3 separate regions of the Homo sapiens genome follow, and all the other regions are linked to region 3. The links come from fine-mapping of genetic effects on gene expression. A gene starts in region 3. Each other region holds a variant in brackets. All regions are shown on one strand. Distances are between the middles of the regions.

What was found. PIP is the estimated chance that this variant, and not a neighbour inherited with it, causes the effect. A credible set is the group of variants that fine-mapping cannot tell apart.
Region 1: its variant is the best candidate, but not a certain one, in a credible set for the expression of VAV2 in whole blood (TOPMed, PIP 0.61).
Region 2: its variant is the best candidate, but not a certain one, in a credible set for the expression of VAV2 in whole blood (INTERVAL, PIP 0.77).

The regions. Positions count from the first base shown.
Region 1 is chr9:133,953,707-133,957,706 of GRCh38, reverse strand. All of the region lies in intron 1 of VAV2 (vav guanine nucleotide exchange factor 2), which reads left to right. Among named protein-coding and RNA genes, the nearest start is that of VAV2, 37 kb to the left of the region's middle. RefSeq lists enhancers at 119-168, 219-328, 1-509, 3,216-3,505. The variant C/A (reference allele first, on the strand shown) is at 1,760.
Region 2 is chr9:133,853,988-133,857,987 of GRCh38, reverse strand. The region is part of intron 3 of VAV2 (vav guanine nucleotide exchange factor 2); the gene reads left to right. Among named protein-coding and RNA genes, the nearest start is that of SARDH, 120 kb to the right of the region's middle. RefSeq lists enhancers at 1-490, 3,071-3,571, 3,572-4,000. The variant C/T (reference allele first, on the strand shown) is at 2,127.
Region 3 is chr9:133,989,916-133,994,410 of GRCh38, reverse strand. VAV2 (vav guanine nucleotide exchange factor 2) reads left to right here and starts at 2,087. Exons shown (of 30, transcript NM_001134398.2): 1 at 2,087-2,336. The coding sequence starts at 2,133. RefSeq lists enhancers at 775-964, 861-1,588, 2,317-3,044, 3,045-3,772, 3,773-4,495 and silencers at 1,375-1,684, 1,785-1,884, 1,945-2,094, 2,365-2,454, 2,495-2,934.

The DNA of each region.
Region 1 (4,000 bases), 36 kb after region 3:
CAGGCAGGGTGTCCCGGCTGAGGTGGGGCCAGCTGTGACGGTGACAGCGGGTGCAGGGAACTCAACATTCCTCCATTTCCTGCTCTGCCCACGGGGATGACGTCCCTCTTGCCCTGGAAGGTACCAGGCCCGCATGTCCCTGGCCTCCCCTCCTCGCCCTGCCCTGCAGCCGGGGAGGCAGGGAGCTGGGACACCTGTGCTGTCAGCGAAGGGGCACCAGGACGCAATATGCCATATTATTCCCAGTAGTCAAATATGTAGAAAACACCACACACACATAAAAAACCCCTAAAAACCCAGAGTCAAGAGACGACAGAAAAACGCCCTCAGTGGTTAGTGGTGTTTTAGGATGGGAGTTCTTGTCGGTTTCATGTTATTCTACTTCCCTGCCCTCATCCAGGCAGGGTTATTTCTATACTGGGAGAAAAAAACAAACCCGTTTCATCCCAGGGAGCAGCGTCCTGGGCACACATCCTTCCCTGGTGAAATGAGACCGGACCTGCAGCAGCTGGTACAGGGGAGGCCCGTAACTGCCAGGCCGAGCCTCAGTTTCCCCACCTGGTAAAGCAGGGACGATCATCCTAACCGGGAGAGCACCAGAGGGTAGGCTTGCACAGAGTGAGGAACCAGAGAGACACTGGTGGCGTTGGAGAGAGTCCTGGGTACCCCGGGCAGGTGGGGAGCTGGGTGGGGAGCTGGGCAGGTGGGTGGGTGCTGCAGTCTGCCCTTTTTGTGACTGCAAACAGGTGCGCCCAGGACTGGAGTTCAGCTCCCTGCTGAAGTACCAGCTCTGGCCCAGCTTTCCTGCTTGAGGACGGCCGGGTTTCCTGCCTGGCCTGTCCCCCACAGAGGGCTCTGTCCCAGGCCCTGGCAGGGGCAGCCTCCCTCCCACTGGGCTCCCGCCTGGGTGGGGGCGGAAGGCGAGGCTGCAGCTGCAGCATTCCTGACCTTGGCTGGCCCAGCTGTTGGCCTGGCAGCAGGGAATCCCCCTCCCGCTCCCTCGCCCCCTGGTGCTCTGCCCACCAGCCGAGGGGCCTGGTGCTGGTTCGCCTGGAATTTCCAGAAAGTACAGCTTCTCAGTTGATCTTCGCATTTTCTGACTTCTCAGGAACTAACTGGCTGCGTGCTTTTTATACATTCCCAGGACTCCCTCCTCCCTAACCCAACCCAAAGCTGAGATAACTTTTTAAGAAATTCTAAAAGTAATGTCTACTCGTTGGAAAAAAAACAAAACGAAACAAAACAAAGCAAAAGAAGAAACAACTCAGAAAGGTAGAAAGACAGAGTACCCTAGACACCCTTTCCCCACCAGGCCCCCAGACCCGCTGGGCCCAACCCCACAGCTGAGAACCAGAGACCCTCCCCAGGGGCTTGGGCTGAGGGTCACAGGGTAGGGAGGGGCTGCAGGGCCCAGGGGAGGCTGGGTAGACGAGGGGATCATGGCACCTCTGGAGATCATCGAGTTCCTGACTTGCAGACCTGTTTTTAATTGTCAGAACCCCCTTCCCTCCCTCTCTCCCTGTGAACCAGTGAGGAAGCTCCCTCCTTCTCAGGAATCCAGGGAATTCATTCAGAGCCACTGGGTTGGGGAAACTGAGGCTCCAGGAGGGTCAGCGACTTGTCCAGCGTCACCTGGGAAGCTGTGCTTTGTGCCTCCTGGCCCCGTGGGCTCCAGGTCTTGACTCTGCGAGTAAGCAGGGAAGGAGCAGATGGGCAGTGAGGTGCTGGCTGCCCGTCTGAGAGCTCCCCGGAGCGGGGG[C/A]CTCCAGCAGGGGCCGTGCCTTTGTGCTGAGCGGAAGCGGCAGGAACTGAGCTTCACGGAGCAGCCTGAGCTGGAGGGTTTAGAGGGCTCCCCTCGGGCTGGGGGAGGCCAGAGCTGTGGGGAGGAGTGGGGAGGAGTAGGAGTGGGAGTGGAGTGCAAGTGGGGGGGTGGGGAGGAACGTGGGGGGGGCGTTGGGGGGAGTGGGAAGCAGCGTGGGGGGAGTGGGAAGCAGCGTGGGGGGAGTGTGGGGGAGTGGGGAGGAGCTTTGGGGGGAATGGGGAGCAGCATGGGGTGAGTGGGGATAGTTGGAGGAGCGTGGTGGGGAGGGGGGAGGAGTGGGGGTGTGGGGAGGATCATGGGGGGAGTGGGGAGAAAGGAGGTGGGGAGGACCGTGGGGAGTGGGGAGGAGCATGTGGGGAATGGGGAGGAGCTTGGGGGGCATTGGAGGGACTGAGGAGCATGGGGAGAGTTGGGGCAGCATGGCAGGGGGAGTGGGGAGTATGGGGAGAGTGGGGAGAAGCAGGGGGGTGGGGAGGAGTGTGGGGAGTGGGGAGGAGCGTGGGCGGGGAGTAAGGAGGAGTGTGGGGACCGTGCTTCCGACTCAGCTTCCGCAGCCAGGAGCCTCGCCTTGGCATCGGGTATGGGGCCACACTCCCTGGCTGGGCTTGTGGAGGGTGGCATGACTATGTTGCTCCCTGTGGGGTCCCCAGAATCTGGGTGATTGAAGGTTTAGGACCTGAAGGGGCAGGAGCTCCCCACAGGAAGCAGAGTCTGGCTGGAAATGGCCTGGTCAGGTTCTGCCCTTCCTGTACCCTTGGCCGAGCCTGGAGGCGACCTCACCGCTGCCTCCCATCTGCAGGGGTGCCCTAGTTTCTCATGGTGTGGGTGTCTGTGGGGTAGCCGGAGGAAGGAGTGTCTGCCTTCCTTTTTCCTCACCTCAGTGCACTTGCATTCATTGCACGCAAACAGCAGTATAATGAAAACGAAGTACATTTAAACAACAGGAAAAATCTGTTTACATCTTACCCTCCACCTGTTTGGAGTTCAGAATGATTTATCTCGGTCCTTGCCCTCCTGCAGATGTATTTTTGCTTAGCTTTATTTATCGTAATGCAGACACACACTGCACATACATACACTGGTACATACATCATGAGCATGCACACATACATGTGCACACACATGAACACATGCACGCCTGTACACCCCTAAGCACCTGCGCACCCCCACATGTATGTGCATGGGCACCCCACACGCATACACATGAGGACACACACATCACAGACCTTGCCCTGCTCGAGCATCAGCAGCATCCCCCGCCCGCCCCACAGGTGTGTGGCACATGTAAGTGCTTGGCTGCAGTGCCACAGCTCCCGCTCCCCCCAGCCTCCCATGGCTGGACCTGCGATGCCTTCTCCGGAAGCCTTCAGGCGTGCGTGGATTTCACTCAGATTCACTGCGCACTTGCGATGTGCTGCTGCGGCACTGAGTACTTTGGGTCCTTTCCAGCACCAGGCGAGAAAGCTCCTTGAAGTGCAGGCATCTCTCCTGTTGGGCGTCTCACGCGCACTTGCTCCTCCTTGTGCCTTGCCGCCCCATGGTGACAGAACTGATTTGGCAGCCTGGGCCATGCATGCAGGGCCGCAGGCCCTCAGCAGGTGCTGGTGGGCGGATGGACAGATGGGCAGATGGACAGAGGGACACCAGGCACATGCCGCTTCTCAGAAATCCCTGGAAATGACTGGGATGGTAACAGAACATCACAATTGACTCTTTCTTCTCGAAATGATGGGTGCTAACCACGGAGTGATTCCCCAGCAGCAGACAGGCGCAGTGCTTTCGGTGACGGTTTCGGCCGTGTTTGTTGCACGTTGAGAAGGGTGTTTTACATCCCATGGCGTGTATAGTGCTGGGATCTTAAGAATGTCACACATGTGCAGTGGGTTGTCCCACATGTGGAGCCACCTGCCTGTGCAAGGGGTGGTGGGAGGCGCTGCCTGTCAGGTGCTGGCTGTAGCCTCTGGCAAGCAGTGGGTTTTTCTGCAGAGGGAGGACACCTAGGGATGGAGGCCCACAGGTCTTGGTTTTGGGGTACTCGGGCCAGGTGCCTTCTTTGGAGACAGGGAGGCAGCTGTTGGACATGCAGGCCTGGGAGCCGGGGTCATGGGAGCTGGGTTTCCCAGGGTGGGTGTGGGGGACCTTCAGGATTTGAACCTGCATCTCCCTGCCGGAAAGGTGCCC
Region 2 (4,000 bases), 140 kb after region 3:
GGTGTTTGCAGGCCAAAGGGAAGGGCCTCCTGGGCGCAGAGCGAGGCTTTGCAGGAAGACCTCTGCAGGCCCTCCTCCCCGGGGCCTGGCTTTCCTGCCCTTCTCCTCCACCCTCCCTCCTCTGAGCCCCACTCTGGGACTTTTCCTGGGTCCTTTCCCTCTGCAGCCCTTGGGGTTGAGCGCAGACCTCCACTGGTTCACACGCTCACCCGGGAGCTCAGGAGACAGGTGACAGGCAACCCTCCCAGGCAGCCCCACTTGGTGGCTGCGTCTGAGCAATGTCCCACCTTGCTCCGGATGGGCTGGGATTTCCATGGGGAATTGAACCTTCTGGGGGCAGCCACCAGCACTTCACAAGACACTATTTCATTTCGAGCGTTTTGTAGTGTTAGTGATTAGCAAAAGGTTCTAGTTTAACACAACCCTTTCCTTCTTGAAAACCCACAAGCCAAGCCCACAGCCCTGAAGAATCTCTCCCTCATTTCATGGCTGGGTAGGAGCCCAACGTGCTCCTTCAAAAAATCATTTTCACAACCCTTGCACTTTGCATAATGAGCTGATTTTCCATAAAAGCCCCAATTATACTTCTCAGAGGCTGATGAATTGGAGACTTAATCTAAGAATCCCGCCCTGGTGCCGGCTGGGGGATCAAACGTGTTGGGGAAGCGGGGCAAGGGGGAGGATTGTGGTTGTAGAGTGGGAGAGGGGTTTGTGGAAGGCACCCAGCGAGGCGTGTGGGGATGTGGGTCTTGCTGTGGCCAGAGCTAGCCCTCCAGATTGGGGGTGCCCTAATTTGGGGTCATCACAGCTCTGAACGGCTGGGAGGGAGGAGATGGTGAAGGGTAGGACTTCCTGAGAAGGAAACCGAAAGGTGTCCTCAGGCTGGGAGGTCAGGTCCCATGAAGGAAGCTTCTGTCAGCCAAATGACCTTGGGCAGGGATGCTCTTGGAACCTTTGTCTCTTCTGTAGGCTGGGAGCATGACTCTGCCTCGCGGGGTTGCTCTGTGTCTGTGCATCGTGCAGCGCAGCACCTGGTCCTTGTGGAAGGCCCGCGGCTGCTAGGTGGATGTCCTAACCCCCAAACCCTGAGAGTGTGACGAGGAAAAGGGTTTTCGCAGATGTAAATACACATAATTTTAAGAGGGACGCAGGAAGGTCAGAGTCAGAAAAAGGAGATGTGACGGCAGAGTTAGAGCGATGGGGCTGTGGGCCCAGGAATGCAGGCAGCTTCGGAAGCTGGAAAAGGTAAGGGACAAATTCTCCCCGGCACCTCCTGAAAGGGACCAGCCCCTCGATACCTTGACGCCAGCCCCTAAGACCCGCTTCAGACTTCTGACCCCCTGAACTGTAAGAGTCTGTGTTGCTTGAAGCCACCAACTCTCCAACTCTCTGGTGACCTGTTAGAGCAGGAGCAGAGCCCCCTGGATTGGCTGGGAGGCTGTCTGAAGGCCCAGCTATGTGGCGTGTCTGGGCACATATCAGCATGGGGTCCCAGTGGGGGGCACATACCAGCATGGGGTCCCGGTGGGGGGCACATACCAGCATGGGGTCCCGGTGGGGGGCACATACCAGCATGGGGACCCGGTTGGGGCTCAACCCTGGCTCCTCACTGGGCTGGGCTCCTGGCTTTGATTGTCTCATCCTGGCCCAGCCCTGCCACCCTCTCTTCTGCTTTCTGACTTGTAAAAATTGAAATACATTCATATCACATAAATGTAACCCTTGTAAAGTACGCAATTCAGTGGCATTTAGTACTTTCACCATGTTGTGCAACCACCACCTCTATCTGCTTTCACAACATCTTCACACCCCAGGAAGAAACCGGTCGCCATGAGCAGTCACCGCCCTCCCCAGCCTCAGGCAGCCCCCAGCCTGCTTTCTGTTTGCCTGTTCTGGATGTTTCATGTCCATGGAATCATACGGTGCGTGCCTTTCGCACGTGGCTTCTCCCACCCCGCATCTTGTTTTCAAGGTTCACCCAGCCGTAGCCGGTCATTGCGTCATTCCTCTTTATGGCCGTGGAACATTCCAGTGTGTGGCTAGGCCATATTTTGCGTATCCGTTTATCACGTGATGAACTCTGGCCTGTTTCCACCTTTTGGCTCCTGTGACTAGCATTGCTGTGA[C/T]GGCTGCAAGGCAGGGGACAGGGGTCAGGCTGAGGTTGGAGTGAGAGAAATGGAAGTAAGCTGGAACTTCCTGCTTCAATTTGAAGTGAATTCTCAGAATATCAGACATACCCGTATTGAATCTAAGCACGACAAAGCATTAGGAACTGGAAGCAGTGACCTCGCATTTCCTTATGGCTTCAAGGACCCACCTTTTGGTCTTCCCATGTGCGGGGGGAGCTGGTGGCGGGTGGCAGGCTTTATCCCGGAGCACTGGGCAACGAGACCTAAGATGCGGCTCGTGCAGGGAGAGGCCGGGTGCCCTCCCGGGATACGGAGGCAGCTTGCAGAGACAGCCTCTTGCTGAGTTCTTTCCTTTTAGCCTCTGCTCCTGCAGTGGCCGGGAGAGCACTGGAACCCCGTGCCTTGCTGGCTGGCCCTGATAATGAGAAAGTCTGTTTGTGCAGTGGTGAGGGCTGCGTCCTTGACTTCCACTCCCAAACCTGGTTTTGCCTTCCCAAATCACCTACAAGGTACCAAATACCTCTCATGTGAGACATCTCAGCCGGAGGCTCCGTGAATGGGCCTTGGCAGACTCTGCAGTTCCCACACCTCCGTGAACGAATGTGCTATCCTCTCTGCACACTGTGAGCCAAGGTGAAGGGTCCGCACGCCAACACCTTGTCCTGCCCCACGAGTCCCGGCCTCTTCTCCCCTGAGTCTTTGCTGTGTTTGAAGACATTGCTGTGGCTCCTGTAGCCTTCTCTCTTGGGCACAGCATCCCCTGCTCTCTCCACTCTCTTCCATCCGGGCTGGTGTCCCTTTTTCTTCCATCTGGGCTGGTGTCCCTTTTCCCATCTGGTGTTGCCTGCTTAATTCCAGGTAATTGGGCTGAGAGGAGATGGGGACGGAAGGTGGCAGTCATTATATGCTTAGCAGCTCATCCCGCCAGCAAGATGGGTTTAATTGTCCCACCTGGTGACATCAAACATCCTGGCCACCTGTCCTCAGTGGGTCTGCTGTGAGGGGACAGGATGACATGTGAGTCCCTGGGCCAGCCTAATTGGAGAGTCTTTTTTTTCCTTTTCTTTCCTTTCGTTACAATAATGGATTCAACCTCCTCTGCATAGGGAGTGGGAGGGGAGTAATTGGAAGACATTAAACTCCTTCCTGGGGAGGGGAGGTCAGAAGAGGCCACCTTTGGATTGCTGGGCTTTGAGGCTGGGGTCTGGCCCCCTCCAGCCTGCTTCTGGTCACAGCGGCCAGCTCTCTGAAGGGTAGGCTCGAGTCACCAGCTGGCTTGCTCCATCAGTCTGGCACCTCTTCCACACCCCAGGCCTCTGTTGCCCTGGTCAGTAGCACAAGCCAAGGGCAACTCAGTGAGGAGTAGCAGTGGGCAGCCCCAGTTCTCTGGCCTGGCATGGTCACTGCCTCATTCGCACCACTGCTCCTCTTTTGCATTCGTCCAGCCATGGCTGGGGCCTCCAAGTTTAGGCAGAACAAACTGTGTTAGATGGTGCGTGTGTATGGGTGTGCGCGTGTGTGTATGTACATGTGCACATGGGGGTGTGTGTGCAGGTGCACATGGGTGTGTGTGTGTGCATATGGGTATGTGCGTGTGTGTGTGCAGATGAGTGCATGTATGTGTGCAGGTGCACATGGGTGTGTGTGTGCATTGCAGATTTGTGTGTGTGCAGGTACATGGGGTGTGTGTGCATATGCAGATGTGTGTGTGCAGGTGCAAGGGGTGTGTGTGTGCAGGTGCAAGGGGTATGTGTGTGCATGTGCAGATGGGGGTGTATGTGCAGGTGTGCAGGTTCATGGAGTGTGTGTGTATGTGCAGATGGGTGTGTGTGTGTGCACACGTGTGTGTATATATGCTCATGTGCCCACAC
Region 3 (4,495 bases):
CCGGCGGTCCAGGCGAGGGGTTGGGAGAGTGGGTAGCTCTTCTTCCTCTCTGAGCCCTTTCTGTCCCAGCACAGTGGGAAGCCTCTGGGTAATTTATCCGTCCATTCTTCACAAGCAAGTCCAGTGGGAGCCGGGTCTCCCCGCTCTAGAGAGGAGGGGATGAGGCTTTGCAGGAGGAGGGATCAGTGTAGGCTCTCAGATGGGGCTGGAGGGCCCCGCTCAGGTTTCACTCCTGGCTTTCTGATTTCTTAGGGAGATGCTGATGGGTCCACCTGCTGCCCCATCTTGCTTCGGTGAGGAAAGCTCTCCCCCTTGCCCTAAAGGTGCCCACTGCTGCTTCCTCGGGGAAGGGCAAGAGACCTGAGCCCCCGCCTCACCAGCCACCTGGCCTGAGTTTACTGCTGCAGGGGCCAGCTCCTTCCTGACCTCTCTCTACGGGCCAGACCCTAAGCTGGGACCCCCTGCTTCCACCTCAGTGGAGAAGGGGTGAGTCTGACTCTGCAGAGACCAATTTCCAGGACAGGACCCCCATCGGAGGCCCTGGGCCCAGGGGACCCTCTCTGCGCTCGCATCCCCGTTCCGGCCCCTGCGCAGGGAAGCCACGGGGTAAGGGGTCCGGGGGCTGCAGTGCAGCCCCAGCTCATACAGGCCCAGGATTCCACCGGAGTCCAGGGTGGGAGCCCTCAGACACCGCACCCCAGCCTCCGGGCTGAGCCAGTCTCAGAGAAGGGCTTGGACTTGCCTGGTGTCCCCCAGTGAATCAGCAGTGAAAACCCGCGGTTCCCGGCAGCTGAGCCAGGATCCATATAATTTCAGTTGCAGAATCTGTTTGTCCTTGAAGCCCCTCCTACCGTCACACGTTGCCAGCTGGACAGACCGCGCCCCCACCACCCAGGGTGTGGCCTAGAAGGGAGATCAGGGCGGATCAGCACCGGGGCCGGCTGCGACCCTGGGCCGGAGAGCACCTTCCTGCCCTCACTCATGTCACGCATTCCGCCCTGGACGCCAGGAACTGCCCGCTGGGCAGCTGCGAGTGGCCAGGACTTTGGCCAAAAGCTGGGGAATCCTGGCCTTTATGCAGGGTCGGGGGTCTTCCTATGGGCCCCCGGCCAGGGCGGAGGACAGGAAGAGGGCTCTGGGAGTCCTGGGCCCGTGTGCCTTCAGCCTCAGCCTCGGGTATCCCGCCGGGGCGGCTTGATGGGCCAAGGGGGCTCAGTAAGCTTCGGCCCAGCCCGGTGCCCTCTCCCGAGTCTGTCGTTACCGAACGGCCATGCGAGGGCGCCCAGCGCGACAGGGACCACCTCCTGACCTCCACGGAGGACCAAAGGCACCCGGGGGGACGCCCGGCCATCACTCCACGGGCGAGGTCGCTCCCCCAGGGAGAAGGGCTCCCCAAAGTCCGAGCGCCCTTGGAGAAAGTCGGCCGGACCTGGGCCTGCGCCGCAACCCCCGCCCACCGCAACTTTCGCGGGCGGTAGCGGGGCAGGAAGTGGGGGGGCGGGGGCGGCGCTTGGGACACGGGGAGGTGCCAGGCGAGTGCTCCGGCCCCGCCCCTGCCCCGCCCGGCCGTGGCCGCGCCCCCTGCGCCCCCAGCGCCCCGGAGCCGTGGAGCCGCCGAGCCGCCGAGTCGTCGAGTCGCAGCGCCGGGCGTGGGGACTGCGGGTGGGGCGAACAAAGCGGCGGCGACGCGGGCGGCCCAGGCCCGGGACGCGCGGAGCGAGCGACCCCGCCGGGCCTTTGTCTCGGGCGGGGCAGGAGCCGCGGCGGCCGCGGGGCGCCCCGAGCGCAGAATGCGGCGCCCGGCGGCGCGGATTGGGGAGCGCTGCGGCGACTGGCTGCGTGGAGCCCGGCCCGGGGCCCGCAGGCACTTGCGTGTGTGAAGCGGGGAGATCCGGCGCGCTGCCCGTTGCCCGCCCCGCGGCCGCACGTGGGCGGGAGCGGCGGCCCGAGAGGAGCCCGAGGAGTAGGAGGAGGAAGAGGAGGGGACGCACGGCGGCGCAGCGGGGGACCTGGGGCAGCCCGCGCGAAGCCCCGCCCCGGCCCTGAGCCCCGCGCGCGCGCGGGCGGGATGCCCCGCGGCCGCTGCACTTTGGCTCGAGCACTGCCCTGAGCCGGTCGGGCCCGCGGGCGCCATGGAGCAGTGGCGGCAGTGCGGCCGCTGGCTCATCGATTGCAAGGTCCTGCCGCCCAACCACCGGGTGGTGTGGCCCTCGGCCGTGGTCTTCGACCTGGCGCAGGCGCTGCGCGACGGGGTCCTTCTGTGCCAGCTGCTGCACAACCTCTCCCCCGGCTCCATCGACCTCAAGGACATCAACTTCCGGCCGCAGATGTCCCAGGTGAGCGCCCGGCGGGCGGGAGGGCCCCGGGGAGGCGGCGTTCGCGCTGCCCGACGCGCGGACTGAACGCGGAGGTCGCAGCGGCGGCGGCCCAGGCGCCCTGGCTGGGGCGGCCGGGCTCCGGGACGCGGGCGGGCGGCTGGAGGGTGCGCCCCGGGCCTCCGAGACGCGACCTCAGGAGGCGCGAAGTTGGCCAAAGTCCCCTCAGCCTGGGTCGCGCCGCCGCCGCCCGCGGGCACTGCTCTGGTGCGCCGGTTCCGCGGTCTGCGCGGCCTGGGATGGGGGAGGCTCCGGCGCTGCGCTCGCTCTGCGGGGCCCTGCGAGTGGCCCCTCATTTCCCAGGGAGCCTGCCGAGCCGGGTGTGCGCGTCGTGGGTCGCATCCTTGGGCCTCGCGCCTCCTGGCCGGACGCCGGTGGAAGAGCGGGCGCGGTCGCTGCGCCGGCCCGGGGCGCGGCTGGAGGGCCCGGGAGGGGCGCGGGGCGGGAGCCCTCGGGGCCGGAGGGAGCTGGGTTGGCCCCGGGCACCGCCCCCTCGCCGGCCTCCGCCTCTTCCCGGACCCGGACCCGGGCCACTTGGCGCCAGTCCTGGCTCCCGGGTCGAGCCGCCTCGAGGATCCCCAGGGCCACTTGGCCCCAGTCCTGGCCCCCATCGCTTTCCCAACACCCCCACCCCTCCTTCGGGCGCTGAGTGTGGCCTTTGTCGCGGCGGAGGCACGCGTGCGGCCGCAGGGCCAGGCAGGAAAATGCCTGCCCAGCCGAACGAAGCTGCTTTTCTTGGCCTCTTAAGAGGGAACTTGGCTAAGACTTGAGAGAATCGAGGCTTCCGTCCTGTTCTCCGGGGGTCGCGGAATCCTTACCGGGAGCAGCTTAGAAGAGGTCGGGGGAGGCAGAGCGGGTGGCAGCCGGGTCCACCCAGCGCCGAGGAGGTGCGGTCTTCCAGCCAGCTCAGCAGCCCCTCACCGCGCGCAGTGGCAACTCCATGTGGAGAGGGACCATTCACCAGTGGGACTTAGGACGTGGTTCCTGGGAAGGAGGGAGAGTGAGTCACCAGCGATTCCAGGCTGGGCAGCGAGGCCTCTGCCCTTTGGCGGTGACTGCGTTTCCTAGGAGACCGGGCCTTTCTCTGCCGGGTTGGGGGGCGCTGACAAAGGCAAGCCCAGAGGGGAAGGGGCCGCCTTCCCACTGGGTAATGATTACCCAGCACTGCCTGGACCGGCTTAGCAGGAGCCCTCAGAGGCCTCCCTGGGAGCCAGCGCCTCTTCCCGCAGGATGTCAGTGGTCAGGTGCAGGTGGCGGGGGTGGCGGTCACTGCTGCAGAGGGCTTCCCCGGATCTGTTCTCAGAGCCCCACGGGGACTGGGAAGTCTGGACTCCATTTTATGGCTGGAGAAACTGAGGAGAAGGGTAGCTGTTGGGGAGCAGGGCTGGGCCTCGAACCAAGGTGGCTGCCTTTGATATGAGTTCCAGGGGCTGCCCAGGCTGACTTGCTCGGGCAGGATTCCCTGCTGCTTGCAGGCTGGGGCTCAGGGCAGAGGCAGGGCAGCTGGGTCCGCACAGAGGAGGCTTGGGAGGAGCCCAGCCTTGCCTGGTGGACTCGCTGGGTCCGGGGGCTGCCCCTCCCCAGCTGTGGTTTGGGAAGATGGGAAGAGGAGGGGGCCGTGGCTGTGGCAGGTGGCTTGGCTCAGCTCCTGCACTGGAAGTTCAAGCCAGAGACTTCCTGGGGTCTCTGGAGCCATTGGCCAGGCAGCAATACGAACCCTGACAGAGGCCCCTTGAGCCCTGCTGCTGGGGGGTGGACGGGTGTCTAGGGGTCCCGCTGCTGGGCCGGTAGAGGGGTGTTTAGGGGCCCTGCTGCCGGACTCGTGGAGGGCGTGTAGGGGCCTGGATGGTAGGAGGACCAGATGGGTGTGTGTCTGTGTGGCTCTCCGCTCTGATTGAATCCTGGCACTGTCCCCTCCCAGGTAGGCAACGACCTCCAGAGCCTCAGTTTCCCCATCTCTGTCATGAGAACAGTCATAGCAGTCCCCTCGTAGCCATGCTGTGAGGATTTGCTAAGGGCAGGCACAGAAGGCACACCCTTCGCACAGTGCCCAGGAAATGACCGTCACCTGGACTGTGGCACGTAGTGCCCTGTGTCGCTGAGGCTGATCTTGCCATCCA